Regions from separate parts of the Homo sapiens genome. Here region 2 is linked to region 1. The links come from fine-mapping of genetic effects on gene expression. Tissue or cell type: hippocampus. Region 1 holds a variant in brackets; the other region holds the start of a gene. All regions are shown on one strand. Distances are from middle to middle.

What was found. PIP is the estimated chance that this variant, and not a neighbour inherited with it, causes the effect.
Region 2: it holds the start of LINC01719, and the variant in region 1 is fine-mapped to the expression of LINC01719 in hippocampus (GTEx, PIP 0.92).

Annotation. Positions count from the first base shown.
Region 1 is chr1:146,122,354-146,130,459 of GRCh38, forward strand. It overlaps NBPF10 (NBPF member 10), which reads right to left. Exons shown (of 90, transcript NM_001302371.3): 12 at 5,766-5,929; 13 at 4,675-4,726; 14 at 3,883-4,055; 15 at 3,112-3,163; 16 at 2,335-2,507; 17 at 1,574-1,625; 18 at 753-925; 19 at 1-38. Among named protein-coding and RNA genes, the nearest start is that of NBPF10, 18 kb to the right of the region's middle. The variant T/C (reference allele first, on the strand shown) is at 3,621.
Region 2 is chr1:146,049,252-146,057,357 of GRCh38, forward strand. LINC01719 (long intergenic non-protein coding RNA 1719) reads left to right here and starts at 3,345. Exons shown (of 3, transcript NR_125968.1): 1 at 3,345-3,697. It overlaps RNVU1-6 (RNA, variant U1 small nuclear 6), which reads right to left and starts at 2,993; the gene lies at 2,830-2,993. RefSeq lists enhancers at 2,203-2,931, 2,932-3,663 and a silencer at 2,843-3,082.

The DNA.
Region 1 (8,106 bases):
TCCCCTTCTTTTCTTCCCCTTCCCCTTCTTTTCAATTTCTGCAATAAATTCAGACATGGACAGACACATTAAGCTGATTCCCCTACACACATAACAATCCACTGTCTAATCCTCACACAGGGACCTCAGGCTCCTCAGCATAAGAATAGGACACTGTGAGAGATATATTTCAGGAGGCCTGAAGGCTGGTCATGATAGAAATTCCTTGGTTTTTCTCCCAGAAACTGTGGGTAAAGTGTCCCTATTCTAGTAGATCGTTATCTCAATATCATTTGTCCCAAGTTTGTGCAAACAGTTACGCCATATTTTTCCAATCAACTTAAAGCAAATACCCTCAAATGATTTCTAGGAGAAAAACTGCAATATTTAGCCCTGTCTCATCAAATACTCAGATTGTTCATGGTTGTGAGGACTTTAGACACTGAAATTAGAGTGAAAAAGGAAATCTACAAACCCTTGAGTCAAAATCATAGTTCTCTGAATTTGTCACATCTGCCCAGGTCCAATGTCATGAGAATAGGATCAGGGCGCCACAGGTATGGCCTGAGACTAGGAAGAGAGTCTTGCTCACTGACCCATCCCTTGTCTGGGCTTCCAGGTAGAACTAGAGTTTCATTCAACCTACATGTGCCTATAGGTCCTCCCTGTGGCAATGACATCTCTCAGCTCAGTAATGGCCACTTGGAGCAGGAATATGATCTTTATATGGAAGACTCAGTGGATTCTTATCACCTTCATAGAAAGGTACTCACCTCCCACGTCAAGAGAAAAGCCAACATGTTTTTCCTCCAATGCATAAAAGGAACTTCCATAGGGCTGGCAGGAGTCAGGCTGTTCAAGACAACTGGAAGGAGTTGAATAACATCTATCCAGTGAGTCCTGCAAGACTTCAGGCTCTACTACCTCCAGCAGCTCCCTGCTGAGCCTGGAAAAGGAGGAAAAAGTAAAGAATAAGCCAGGGGAAATCAGACACAACAGAGCCCCAACTAGGTTTCATGGGTAGCATAGGGAAGTGGTTAAAAAACTAAAAGGATAGATCCATTAATGAGGTAACAAATTATTGCCTTCATGTTGGGACAGAACAGGGCCAAATGGAAAAGAATGAAAGAGAAAGACAGATAGACACACACACACACACACACACACACACACACACACACACACACACACACAGAGAGAGAGAGAACGAGCTCAGTGAATTGTCCAGGTGACGCACTGATGAGGGAGTAACAGGACACTCTGAGTTAGTGCCCTCAGGACACACAGCATACAGGGATCATGAAAAGACTGTGCTCAATAATTTTCCATAAAATGTGCTCAAGTTTCCATGCAGTCACCATGAGAATACAGTTTTTGAAGTCTGGTCCACCTACAGTAGGTTAGTAAATGATAAGGGGAGGAAGAAATGGAAACCTAAATATCTACTGCAATGAAAACCAACAGCAATGTTAGTAGGAATAATTCAGGCTTGGTTGAAGAGATGTAATCGATAATGTCAGCCCGCTCTGTTTTCCCTGAACCAGGAGTCTCCAGATGTCAACACAGAAGTAGCTGTTCACAATTGCTCAGTTACCTGGGGCATGGTGGGCCTTGGTCTTCTTCCTCTTCTTGGTCCTTTTTAATTCCTGCAATACATTCAGACAGGGACAGACAAAATAAGCCAATTCACCTACACCCATAACAGTCCACTGTCTAATCCCCACACAGGGATCTCAGGCTCCTCAGCATGAGAACAGGACAATGTGAGAGATATACTTCAGGAGGCCTGAAAGCTGGTCATGATATTCTTTGGTTTGCATCTCAGAACCAAGGGTGAAATATCCCCATTCTGGTACATCGTTATCCCAAAATCATTTATCCCAAGTTTGTGCAAACAGTTATGCTTTATTGTTCCCATCAGTTCAAAGAAAATGCCCCAGATGATTTCCAGGAGGAAAACTAAAGTATTCAGCCCTGTCTCATCAAATGCCCAGCTCGTTCATGGATGCAAGAATTTTAGACACTGAAATTAGAATGAAGGAGGAAATCTACAAACCCTTCAGTCCAAATCATACTTCTGTGAATTTTTTACATCTGCCTGGGTCCAATGTGCTGAGAGCGGGCTCAGGTTGCCACAGGCATGGCTGGAGACTAGGAATAGAGCCTTGCTCACTGACCCATTTCATGTCTAGGCTTCCAACTGAGACTACAGTTTCATTACAACCTATATGCGCCCATAGGTCCTGCCTGCGGCAATGACGTCTCTCGGGTCAGTAAGGGGCACTTGGAACAGGAATATCACCCCTATCTGGAAGACCAGGTGGAGGCTTATCACCTTCACAGTAAGGTACTCACTGTCCACGTCAAGAGCCAAGCCAAGGTACTGTTCCTCCAATGAGTAAACAGCACTGCTGTAGGGCTGGCCTAAGTCAGGCAGTTCAAGATAACCTGAAGGAGTCGAATAACATCTATCCAGTGAGTCCTGCAAGACTTCAGGCTCTTTCTCATCCAGCAGCTCCCTGCTGAGCCTGGAAAAGTAGGAAAAAGTAAAGAATAAGTCAGGGGGAATCAGAAACCACACAGCCCCAGCTAGATTTCATGGCTAACATAAGGAACTGTTTAAAAAGAAAAAGGACAGATCCATTAACGAGGTAATGAATTATTGCCTTTATGTTGGGATAGACCAGGGCCAGGTAGAAAAGAATGAAAGAGAAAGACAGGGAGAGGGAGAGAGAGAGAGAGAGAGAGAGGAGAAAGTGAGCTCAGCGAGTTGGCCGGGTGACACACTGATGAAGGGGTCAAAGGACACTCTGAGTTAGTGCCCTCGGGACACACAGCGAACAGTGATCATGAAAAGAGTGGGCTCAATAATTTTCCATAAACTTGCTCAAGATTCCATGCAGTTGCCATACAGCCTTTGAGGTATGGTCAACCTATAGTAAGTGAGTAAATGATAAGGGGAGGAAGAAATGGAAACCTAAACATCTACTGCAATGAAAACCAACAGCAATGTCAGTAGGAGTAATTCAACCTTCGTTGAAAACATGAAATTGAACACACTCTTGTTTTCCCTGGACCTGGCATCTCCAGGTGTCAACACAGAATTAAGCATCCATAATTGCTCAAAGTTACCTGGGGCATGATGGGTCTTGGTCTTCTTCCACTTCTTGGTACTTTTCAATTTCTGCAATAAGTTCAGACATGGACAGACATATTAAGCTCGTTCTCCTACACACATAACAATCCACTGTCTAATCCTCACACAGGGACTTCAGGCTCCTCAGCATGAGAATAGGACACTGTGAGAGATATTCTTCAGGAGGCCTGAAGGCTGATCACCACAGAGATTCCTTGGTTTTTGTCCCAGAAACTGTGGGTAAAATTCCCTATTCTGGTAGATCGTTATCCAAATATCATTTGTCCCAAGTTTGTGCAAATGGTTATGCCATATTTTTCCAATCGATTTAAAGCAAATGCCCCCAAATGGTTGCTAGGAGAAAAACTGCACTATTCAGCCCTGTCTCATCAAATACTCAGATTGTTCATGGTAGCGAGGATTTTAGACGCTGAAATTAGAGTAAAGGATGAAATCTACAAGATCTACAAAATTTAGACAAAATCAGAGTTGTGTGAATTTGTCA[T/C]ATCTGCCCAGATCCAACATCTTGAGAGTAGGATTATGGTGCCACAGGCATGGCCTGAGACTAGGAAGAGAGCCTTGCTCACTGACCCATCCCTTGTCTGGGCTTCCAAGTGGAACTAGAGTTTCATTCAACCTACATGTGCCTATAGGTCCTCCCTGTGGCAATGACATCTCTCAGCTCAGTAACGGCCACTTGCAGTAGGAATATGACCCTAACCAGAAGACTCAGTGGATCCTTATCACCTTCATAGAAAGGTACTCACCATCCATGTCAATAGCCAAGCCAACACGCTGTTGCTCCAATATGTAAAAGGCACTTCTGTAGGGCTGGCATGAGTCAGTCAGTTCAAGACAACCTGAAGGAGTTGAATAACATCTATCCTGTGAGTCCTGCAAGACTTCAGGCCCTTTCTCATCCAGCAGCTCCCTGCTGAGCGTGGAAAAGTAGGAAAAAGTAAAGAATAAGCCAGGGGGAATCAGAAACCACACAGCCCCAGCTAGATTTCATGGCTAACATAAGGAAGAGTTTGAAAAGAAAAAGGACAGATCCATTAATGAGGTAACAAATTATTGCCTTTATGTTGGGATTGACTAGGGCCAGGTAGAAAAGGATGAACGAGAAAGACACACACACACACACACACACACACACACACACACACAGAGCGAGCTCAGTCAATTGGTCAGGTGACACACTGATGAGGGAGTCAAAGGACACTCTGTATTTGTGCTCTCAGGACACACAGTGAACAGTGATCATGAAAAGCATGTCCTCAATAATTTTGCATAAAATGTGCTCAAGTTTCCCGGCAGTTACCATGAGAATACAGCTTTTGAGGTATGGTCAACTTTCACTAGGTTAGTAAATGATAAGGGTAGGAAGAAATGGAAACCTAAACATTTACTCTAATGAGAACCAAAAAGCAATGTAGTAGGCATAATTCAGACTTGTCTGACAAGACAAAATCATTATTTTCAGGATGTACTGTTTTCCCTGGACTTGGCATCTCCAGGTGTCAACATCAAATTAACTGTCCACAATTTCTCAGACTCACCTGGGACCTGTTGCCTCTTGGTCCTCCTTTTTCACTTGATCCCACCGATGTCCTGCAAATAAATTCAGATGTGCCCTCTTACATTAAGTTCTTCCTTGCACACAGAAACATTCCTCTGTCCAATCCTAACACAGGGACATCAGTCTTGTCAGTGTGAGAACAGGAGACTTTCAGAGAAATATTCCAGTAGGCCTGAGGTCAAGTCTTGAGAAAACTGGCTTGGGTTCTTTCATGAGCCTTGGGCAAAATTCCCCTGTGTTGGAATGTTATCTTCCCTATGTGCTCTGTCCTAGGTTTATGTACACAAATGAGCAATTTTTTCCCCAATAAATTGTAGGCAAATAGTTCTAACACCTCATAGGAGAGATACTTCAATATTAAGCTTTCTCTCATCAAATACCCAGAATTTGATAGTTTATGAGATTGTGGACACAGAGATTTGATGAAGGGGTGCAATGTACCAGCTCTTGAGTCAAAATGAAACTTGGTTCTACACAGAAGCATCAGCTATTATGGCTTTTGTGGGTGAAAAGTCAGCCATTTATCTAGAAAACATACCAGGAACATGACGGACAGATGAGCTAAAACAAGCGAACTTAGAAGACACAGAAAATGGGAATAAATTCAGTGAAACCTGGGTCACATCTTTCACTGAGAGGTAGACAAGGGTGACACTGGCCTTGGGCAGGTAAAGAACCACACAGACATGCTTTGGGAACAAAACTCATAAGGAATTTTGTAGCTGGCAAGAGACATTTAATTCAGATGAGCTGATCTGACAGACAACTCCTGGGCATGTGCTACATAGTTTGGTGTGAGTTTGCCACACCTGCCTTGAGTTTAATGTCGTGACAGTCAGTCCAGGTTGGCACGGGCATGGCCTGAGACTAGGAAGAGAGTAAAGCTCACTGACCCACCCCATGCCTGTGCTTCAGACTTGACTCCAGAGTGACTGAAGTCTACATTGATATATAGGTTCAGCCCACGGTGATGGCAAATCTCAGCCCAACAAGGGGCACAAGGCCCAAAGATTATGGGGTCTACCTGGGCCATGAACTGGAGCTTTATCACCTTCACAATGGAGTACTCACTGCCTATGTCAACAGCCATGCAGACTTGCTGTTCCTCTAATGAGTGAAATGTGCTGCTGTAAGACTGGTACGAGGCCAACATTTCAGGAGGAATTGAGAGAGTCGAATAACCTTCATCCCAGGACTCCTGGGGGACTTCCTCCTCTTCAGACTCCTGCAGATTCCTGATGAGCCAGGCAGGACAGGGATGATAGAAGATTTAACCAACAGACATTAGACAACAAAACCTCCCAGATGATCTGATGGGAGACAGAATGGAGTGGTCACAGAAACCAAAGGCATTTTTCCTTCAAGAGAAATAAAACTATCCTTCTAAATACAGGGTGGAGGGTGACTGCTCTGGGGACAGAGCAAAAATGGGCAGCATGTGCTCAGTACATTTGCCACAGATGAGCCAACTCAGGGCACCCGGACTCTCCCTGTAAACTACCATCATGACTTGCAGCACAGAGAACTGACACAGGGCTTCAACTACTTTGCATAAATTGGGTTGAATTTTACATGCAGCATTCAAGTGAAGAGAGTTCTTGACGCAGTGCAGACACAGATCTTGTGTATTAAGGGCCCCATTTTCCCAATATTTTGATATAATATATTTACTTTTTCAATTTCTTTTCTTGCAAAAATACTAGCCAACATACTACCAACAAATAGGAAGAAAGAATATATACACCTCTCCCTGGATTTAAACACATGGGAGAGAATAGGCAACACCAAGAAATCCCTGTTTGAGGGTCTGGAGTGGACTTCCAGCAAACTCCAACAGACCTGAAGCTGAGGGACCTGACTGTTAGAAGGAAAACTAACACACAGAAAGGAATAGCATCAACATCAACAAAAAAGACATCTACCCCAAAACCCCATCTGTAGGTCGCCATCATCAAAGACCAAGGGTAGATAAAACCACAAAGGTGGGGAGAAACCAGAGCACAAAAGCTGAAAATTCCAAAAACCTGACATCCCTTCTCCTCCAAAGGATCGCAGCTCCTCGCCAGCAATGGAACAAAGCAGGATGGAGAATGACTTTGATGAGCTGACAGAAGTAGGCTTCAGAAAGTCGGTAATAACAAACTTCTCTGAGCTAAAGGAGGATGTGCGAACTCATCGCAAGGAAGCTAAAAACCTTGAAAAAAGATTAGACAAATGGCTAACCAGAATGAACAGTGTAGAGAAGACCTTAAATGACCTGATGGAGCTGAAAACCATGGCACGAGAACTACGTGATGCATGCACAAGCTTCAGTAGCCAATTCGATCAAGTGCAAGAAATGGTATCAGTGATTCAAGATCAAATTAGTGAAATGAAGCAAGAAGAGAAGTTTAGAGAAAAAAGAGTAAAAAGAAATGAACAAGCCTCCAATAAATATGGGACTATGTGGAAAGACCAAATCTACGTTTGATTGGTGTACTGAAAGTGACGGGGAGAATGGAACCAAGCTGGGAAACATTCTTCAGGATATTATCCAGGAGGACTTCCCCAACCTAGCAAGGAAGGCCAACATTCAAATTCAGGAAACACAGAGAACACCATAAAGATACTCCTCGAGAAGAGCAACCCCAAAACACGTAATTGTCAGATTCACCAAGGTTGAAATGAAGGAAAAAATGCTAAGGGCAGCCAGAGAGAAAGGTCGGATTACCCACAAAGGGAAACCCATCAGACTAGCAGCAGATCTCTTGGCACAAACCCTACAAGCCAGAAGAGAGTGGGAGCAATATTCAACATTCTTTTTTTTTTCCATATGTATAGTTTTCCTTTATTATTTTTTGTGTGTATGTATATATATATATATATTTTTTAATACTTTAAGTCTTAGGGTACATGTGCACAACGTGCAGGTTAGTTACATATGTATACATGTCCACATTGGTGTGCTTCACCCATTAACTCATCATTTAACATTAGGTATATCTCCTAATGCTACCCCTCCTCCCTCCCCACACCCTACAACAGGCCCCAGTGTGTGATGTTCCCCTTTCTGTGTCCATGTGTTCTCATTGTTCAATTCCCACCTGTGAGTAAGAACATGCGGTATTTGGTTTTTTGTCCTTGCAATAGTTTGCTGAGAATGATGGTTTCCAGCTTCATCCATGCCCCTACAAAGGACATGAACTCATCATTTTTTATAGCTGCATAGTATTCCATGGTGTATATGTGCCACATTTTCTTAATCCAGTCTATCATTGCTGGATATTTGGCTTGGTTCCAAGTCTTTGCTATTGTGAATAGTGCCGCAATAAACATATGTGTGCATGTGTCTTTACAGCAGCATGATTTATAATCCTTTGGGTATACACCCAGTAATGGGATGGCTGGGTCAAATGGTATTTCTAGTTCTAGA
Region 2 (8,106 bases), 73 kb before region 1:
TAACCGATGGCGCCACAGAGACTCTAATGGTTTAGATTTGCTGATACCAGAAATGGCATTTTAACCTCTGGCCGTAGATAATCTCATATGTTTGTAGCCTGTCCAATCCCGCGCACTCCAGAAACCCAGAACACGGGAGACATTGAAGCCAAGAGTCGAGTCTTTGGGCACTTTGGACGTTCTACCCGGGCAGAGTCAGCTGGGGGACTCCAACGGCCAAACGGCCGCCTGCTCCTCACCGTCTGCTCTTCACTGGTTCCCCCGCCTGCTCTTCACCGTCTCAAAAGTCGCCGGCCCCTCTACAGGCGACAACTGCAGCTTCTCCGGCGGAAGTCACTCGCTTTCCCATTCTTAGCCCCGCTTCACACCTTGAGCTCACAGTCATTTCCGCCGGGCCTGGGCTAGCGGACGCGCGCGTGGGAAGGACCAGAACCCGTGGTGTCCTCACCGCGTCACCCTCGGGCCCTCAGAGGTGGGATCCACCGGACAGGGACCTGGAGTTTGCACAGGCTGCAGCCCTTCGCCCAGAGCCAGCCTAGCACCTAGTAGGTGCCCAATAAATGCTTGGTGAAGGAAGGCATTCCACCGCAGGGTTTTAGGAGAACCATGAATTCCCGTGTGAACGTTAAGCGTTTAGTCCTACTAGGAAGTCTGGAATATAGAGACCTGAACTGTTTCTCAAAGGCAGCTGTTCTTGTATCCCCAGAGCCGGTTTAGAATCCAGCAAAGGCCCCTGCCCGGTGGATCCCACCTCTGGAGACCCGAGGATAGTGCGGTGGGGGGCACCGCGGGTTCTTGTCCTTCCCACGCTCACGTCCACCGGCCCAGGCCCAAAGGAACTGGCTGTGGGTACAAGATGTGAAGATAGTTACAAATACCAGCTAGTGCCAGTGCCAGTTGCAGAAATCAGGACTTGTAATAGTTATGAGTATTTCTTCATTATTTTGAGATGAATACATTTGGGTGTATATTAACCAAAACTTTTCTTGAGAATTCTCCTCTTCCATCACCCTAGCTAGCACATTCATTAATAATTAACTTTTAGAAATCTCAATATTTAGGTTACAGGAAAGCAAATATGGAATGTGATCTATCTAGCTAAAAAAGGAGTGAACATCATTCAAAGACAAAGACTTTATCCTGTTGGGGAAAGGGTTGGCATATTTTCACTGAATGAGAAAAAGTATGATTTTCATATTGTCTTTATTTGAACCTTAAGTATGATTTTACAAGGAGGAAAAAGGAGGAGGAAGAAGCAAAAGAAGAGGAAGAGGAGGAAAAAAAGAAGAGGAGGAAGATGTACATTGATGCCACTTTGAGAAGAAGTGGACTGTGGTGGATTTGTAATGTATCAGTTTTGCCAAGCTGAATGCACATTTCCCAGATTTGCCATCTTTAGATAGCTCTAGGTTAGCCTGGGCAACAGGAGACACTTGGAAGATAGAATTCGAGTGGCTGTTACACTCTTTTGTATACTGGGAAGGGCGTTGTTACAGCTCAGGCATGATCTTCAGCTTCCCTGACCCTTGGACTGGTGGGTGTTTTGCTTCTTGATCTAACATTAAGGTTAGAAGTTGCAGGATTCCAGCAGGGTTTTGTCACATCCAATCTGGTTTAAGTTCTCATATTATTAGGAAAGCTTTAGGGTGCTTCAGGAAAACGCTTTTTAAAAAATCAAATTTGGAAAATATCAAATGGAATTATAGGCAATAAGCATAACCCAGTGGAACCATGAATCAAACCCTCTAGAGCAGGGTTGTCTAAATTTTGGCTTCCTTGGGCCACACTGGAAAAAAAAAAAAGACACTTGTCTTGGGCCAAACATAATATACACTAATCGCAATTGAACTGTACCTGTAAAGCTTGTAAACAAAATGTGTCTGTAAAGTCTGTAAACAGGCCAGGTGCGGTGGCTCAGGCCTGTAATCCCAACATTTTGGGAGGCCGCGAGGCAGGCGGAAAACTTGAGGTCAGGAGTTCAAGACCAGGGTGGCCAACATGGTGAAACCCTGTCACTCTTTTTTTTTTTTTTTTTTTTTGAGACGGAGTCTCACTCTGTCGCCCAGGCTGGAGTGCAGTGGTGCGATCTCAGCTCACTGCAACCTCTGCCTCCCGGGTTCAAGCGATTCTCTTGCCTCAGCCTCCTGAGTAGCTGGGACTACAGGCACGTGCCACCACACCCGGCTAATTTTTTTTTTTTGTATTTTTATTAGAGATGGGGTTTCACTGTGTTAGCCAGGATGGTCTTGACCTCCTGACCTCATGATCCACCCGCTTCCGCCTCCCAAAGTGCTGGGATTACAGGCGCGAGCCAGTGCGCCCGGCCCGGTGAAACCATGTCTCTACTAAAAATTCAAAAAATTAGCCGGACCTAATTTTTTGGTTGCCTGAGCCTGTAATGCCAGTTACTCGGGAGGCTGAGTATTCTCTGGTTGAGGAAGGAGAATAGCTTGAACGCAGGAGGCAAAGGTTGCAGTAAGGCGAGATCGCGCCATACACTCCAGCGGACTGTTTGCTGTTAATCCCATAGGGAAAAGAAAAGCTTAGTTTTATTTCTATAGAACAACAACAAAAAAAGATAAGAGATTAGTAGAGACGGGTTCACTATATTTGCCCACACACGCCTGAGGTCGAGCGATATTAACATAAACATAACCTATCGACGTACCTCATAGATTGCTGGGATTACAAACGTGAGAACCACGATGTCCCAAATTTTTAGTTTCAGTGAAGTTACAGATGGGAACAAAGACCTGATTCTCAGCTTACGCTGACGCCCAGTATGCGTTTCTGCAGCAAACAAAACCTATTTTTAAAACGACAAAAATACAGGGGAAAGCGCGAATGCAGTCTACCACTGCCACAAATTATACAGTCAAGTTTCCCACATTTGGGGAAACTGCAGGGGTCAGCAGATCCGGAGTGCAATGGATAAGACTCGCTCTGGAAAAACCACCTTCGTGACCAGGGTATCTCTCCTGCCAGGTAAGTATGAGTTATTGCACCTCCGCCCCGCCGGCAGCCTCACACGCTTCACCCTTTACACGCACGGTCACTTGCCCCGCGCACACCCCCCTCCCCCCCAGCCCTCCTAGCCCTGACACACAGCTGGGACTCTCAGGTCCGACCAGCGGTCCTGAACCCGCTCCCACGGCACGGGAACTCCTTCGTGGCGAAGCAGCATGTGGCGAAGCAGCAGCCCCTGCGCTGGCTCATCTACATAGAAGTCGCCCTATCCGTGATGTCACCGACAGCGCCTTTCCCAGTCCCCGTCTGCCTTTCTGCCGCTCAGCCGACCAACCCGCTGCCGGAGCCGGCAAGGGGAAGTGACGTCTGCCTCTCCCTTTTTTCTCTCCTGCTTCCCTCATCTGTTCTCTTCCAAAGAAGCTGGTCCTTAGCCTGTATTGCGGAGCAAGCTTTCGGCGACCAGCTGGACCCTGGGCACCCTTCTTCGAACAATGGCTTTTAATTCTCAGACTAGAACGTTTAGGATTACAAAAGAAACTGGTTCTTTTCACATTCTTATTCTTGTGATGTAGCATTCCGCATATATATATATATATATATATATATATATATATATATGTATCCAACTATCCTAAAAGACACTACCCTTCATCATTCCATGCCATTAGACATGTATAGGACCATGCATGGTGATCTCCTCCAGACAAAAGTAAATGCTGGTGCAGAACAGGTAAGTGTACTATAATTTGAGTACATCAGCTTTTGGGCATTTTAAACCATGGGTCAGACAAGTTAGAGCAAGAGGGCAGGTTGATAGCAAGAGGGAGTGTTTTTCTTTTAATTTTCTTTTTTTTTGTTTTGAGACGGAGTCTCGCGCTCTTCGCTCAGGCTGGAGTGCAGTGGGGCTATCTCGGCTCACTGCAAGCTCCGCCTCCCGGGTTCACGCCATTCTCCTGCCTCAGCCTCCCCAGTAGCTGGGATTACAGGCACCTGCCACCACGTCCGGCTAATTTTTTGTATTTTTAGTAGAGATGGGGTTTCACTCTGTTAGCCAGGATGGTCTCGATCTCCTGACCTTGTGATCCGCCCACCTCGGCCTCCCAAAGTGCTGGGATTACAGGCGTGAGCCACCGCGCCCGGCTTCTTTTAATTTTCAAATAGCAAAGTGATGTTTGCCACTGTCATTTCAGAATGAGGTGACAATTTGTTGTTGTTTGGTTTTGTGGGGTTTTTTGTTTGTTTGTTTGTTTCTGAGACAAGGTCTCACTGTCGCCCAGGTTGGAGTACAGTGGCATGATCAGGGTTTACTTCTGCCTTGACCTCACGAATTCAAGCAAACCTCCTTACTAATCCTCCCAAGTAGCTGGGACTACAGGTGCATGACACCACACCCTGGGGTGTGAACTGGGATTTGATGTTTTCAGTTGGCTCCCTGATGGAATAGGTTCCCTTACTATTCTGGAATACAGATTGTCTTCATGATTATGATTCATAATCATAATGATTATGACAGCAGTCCCTGCTGTCAGGCAGGGACGTTTAAGTCTGCAGAAGCTGTCTGCTGCCTTTTATTCAGATATGCCCTGCCCCCAGAGGTGGAATCTAGAGGCAGTAGGCCTTGCTGAGCTGCAGTGGGCTCTACCCAGTTCGAGCTTCCCTACCACTTTATTTACACTGTGACCATAGAACCACATACTCAAGCCTCAGCAGTGGCAGAACCCCCTCCCCCTGCCATGCTCCAGTGTCACAGGTTGATCTCAGACTGCTGTGCTAGCAGCAGGCAAGGCTCCATGGGCATGGGACCTGCCGAGCCAGGCACAAGAGGGAATCTCCTGGTCTGTCGGTTGCAAAGACAGTGGAAAAAAGCACAGTATTTGGGCAGGGGTGTACTGCTTCTCGAGGTACAGTCACTCACAGCTTCCCTTGGCTAGGAAAAAGAAATCCCCCAACCCCTTGCACTTCCCGGGTGAGGCGACACCCCACCCTGCTTTGGCTCATCCTCCGTGGGCTGCATCCACTGTCCAACGAGTCCCAGTGAGATGAACCAGGTACCTCAGTTGGAAATGCAGAAATCACCTGTCTTCTGCGTCTATCTCACTTGAAGCTGTAGACCGGAGCTGTTCCTATTCAGCCATCTTGGAAGCAACCCTCTTTTTCTTTTTGTATTTTGGTAGAGACAGGGTTTCACCATATTGCCCAGGCTGGTTTCAAACTCCTGAGGTCAAGCCATTCTATAAAACAAACTTACATTTGTTTTATCTGAGTTCCTTCCTCAGGAAAGGACTCTCAGGCCTCTCAAAAAGCATCAGAGACCCGAAACTCAGCCAATCACAGCATCCAGACAATGAGATGCCAGTCCCCTCACTCATCACGAGTGCTTCCTCACCCCTCTCTAGTTCCTCTTTTCCCACACACAGTTAACTTTTCTTCTGCGCTATATAAACCCCTAACTTTAGTCAATCAGGGAGACAGATTTGAGACTCATCTCCTGTCTACTCAGCTGCAGCACCTGATTAAAGCCTTCTTCCTCAGCAATACTCAATGTCTCAATGATTGTCTTTCTGTGTGCTGAGAACACTGAAGCCCTGGGGTTTTGGTAAAAATACATGTACACTTTTAAAAACCGCAATTAATGGGTTGTGGTATATTGAGAAATTGGAGTGGCATCAACTTGGCCAATTCTGAGGAAACACACTGTGCTTAAGTGTGAGGGCCCTGCCTCCTGACCTCGACAGTTTATGGTTGATTTTGAGGCACAGCAGGGGAGTATGGCCTGGTTTGAGTGTTTTATAGAAATGTAAAACATGGCTGATTACTTTTTATTTTAAATCCAACAAATCTCCATTTCTGGTGAGAAAATCTTGCCAAAACCAACCAAACAAATGCGTAGAAGTATATGAAGAAGAAAATGAAAGATTCCCTGCCTCCCAATCCCACTTGCTTGGTGTCAGCCATTATTTATCACATGGAGGAAGGGGGCAAGACACACAGGAAGTCCCAAGTCCTGTTCTCACAATCATCTGGCCTCCCTGGGCAAAGGGAAAAGAGGGAAGGCAAAAAGAATATAACACTACTGTTTGCGGAAATTTCCCCTTGGTACAGGAAACTCTGGTAAACTGAGAGAGTATGTTTTCCAGAGGGAGGCCTCAAGGGCTCTTCTCTGGCCCTAAGCCCAAACTGGATTTTGCCTCATTTTCTGAGGTGCAAATGAAATGATAAAAGTTGATCAAAGGAGAGGGCAGAGAGAAAGAAAGAAAGAGGATGACTCCTCTCTCGCAGGTCCACCTTCCTTGGTGTTGCTTGAGGGATCAGAAGAAATGCCTTAACATAGGTGTGTGGGAACTATGGCTGCTAAGTATGAACTCAGTTACCTCCAGTTATAAGCTAGTGTGAGGTTCCATGGTGTAATGGTGAGCACTTTGGACTCTGAATACAGTGATCAGAGTTCAAGTCTCACTGGGACCTTTCTGTATAATTCCAGTGAGGTTCCTCTCTATTGCTCCATAAGCAGAATGGGGGAAATTGCCCAATCGTGGTCACAGACCCTCCATGCCACTGGCTGTGTGCAATTGGAGTCCCGGACCCAGCGACCAGCAAGACCCCTCCCCTCTCAGGGTGACCCTGGGCCTCCAGGTCACAGGTCTCCACTAAAAAGGCTGCCTCCCCTCAATCCTAGACCCCGAGTTTTCTTTTGTTCATGTCATTGGGCCATTGCCCTATGTCTCTTTGGAAGAAATGACCTATATGAAAAACTTTACTTCCAGGATTCCCTAATTCTTTCATCCCTTAGGACAGTGCAGTTTTTCATCTCCTGATCTTGGGTCCAGTACTAATGGCGCGTTTCATCTTGTTTTCATGGGATCCCCTCCAACCGGCTACCAGTGGATTCCTGTCCTTGGGGTCTCTGTGGATGACAACTAGATGCTGCTCTTGTCCCAAATCCTGACACCTCCCTCCAGGGAATTGCCTCCCTTCGCCTCCTAAATCAGCCAATATTTAGATTTGAGCCTGGAATCCCAGCATCTGTGGAGAACGGAGGTTCCTGATCCCTGGCCAGCCTCCCGCAGTGAAGGGGAGAGGAGCAGAGCAGCTGGGAGGGGCAAGTCCAGGGTCCTGGGCAACCCCCTTCTTCCTGCCCAGACTCTGCTCCAAGGAGAAGTTGCCTTAGGACCAGATCAGATGGAAACTCTTGTTCTCTTCTCATCAGCAGAAAAATTTAGGCAAGAGCTCTGGAGGACCTTCCTAGCTCATAAAAATGCTGTGGTCAAGTCTCTCCAGTTTTGGAAGTGTCCAAGGTTACCAAGTGTTTTGAGGGCTCACTTTGGAGCCTCTGAAAAGGAGGGGTCAGGGCCCATGGAAGGTACCTGAGGGATTCAGGAGAGAGAGGGGAAAGAGCAGACAGGAGGGAGGAGAGAAGGAGGGAGGGGGAGAAAGGGTGTGTGAGGGCCAGGAGCCAGGATTCACCCTGACAGTTCAGTGACTGCTCCCTGGCCCCAAAGTTCCCACTGTGGCACCTTCCAGCAGGTGGTTTCCATCTCTTATTGATGTCCTGAGAACTTGGCTCTACAGAACGGTCCCACTCTATTTGTCTGGCATGAGTCCTGCAAAGTTTCTTTTCATCGTTTGGGGGATGAGATGGGGGTATATAGGTTTGCAAGTGACTAGGAGCTAAGTCAGGACCTTGTGGAGCTGCTCAGAGTTAACTGTCAAGTAGCCTCCTTTCCCCCTTCCCTAGCAGGACGATTGCCTGCAAGACAGGGCCTGGAGGAGGCCAGGGAACCCAAGGCCACAGAAATGCCCAGGGATGAGTCCCAGCTGGAGATGCCTTGGCTAAGCTGACTGTGCACTTCCAGGGCTCACAGGGGTCTGGCCAGGAGACTGAGCAAGGGGACCAGGGAGGTTATGCAGAGGCTTCTGCACAGCAAGGCAGACATTCTTCTTGGAGCCCCCAACCCAAATCAGGTCTTCCACCTCCTCTTCCTAAAGACCCTTTACTGCTGTCGTTCTTTTACTGAACTACAAGTTTAGAGGACATGGATTTCAGTGCCCTCATCTGGCCAACCATCTTCAGCTGCCAATGGGCAAGGTAACCTCCCTCCCTGCCAAGACCTGACTCAGGACCTTTCCTTAAGGAGATGT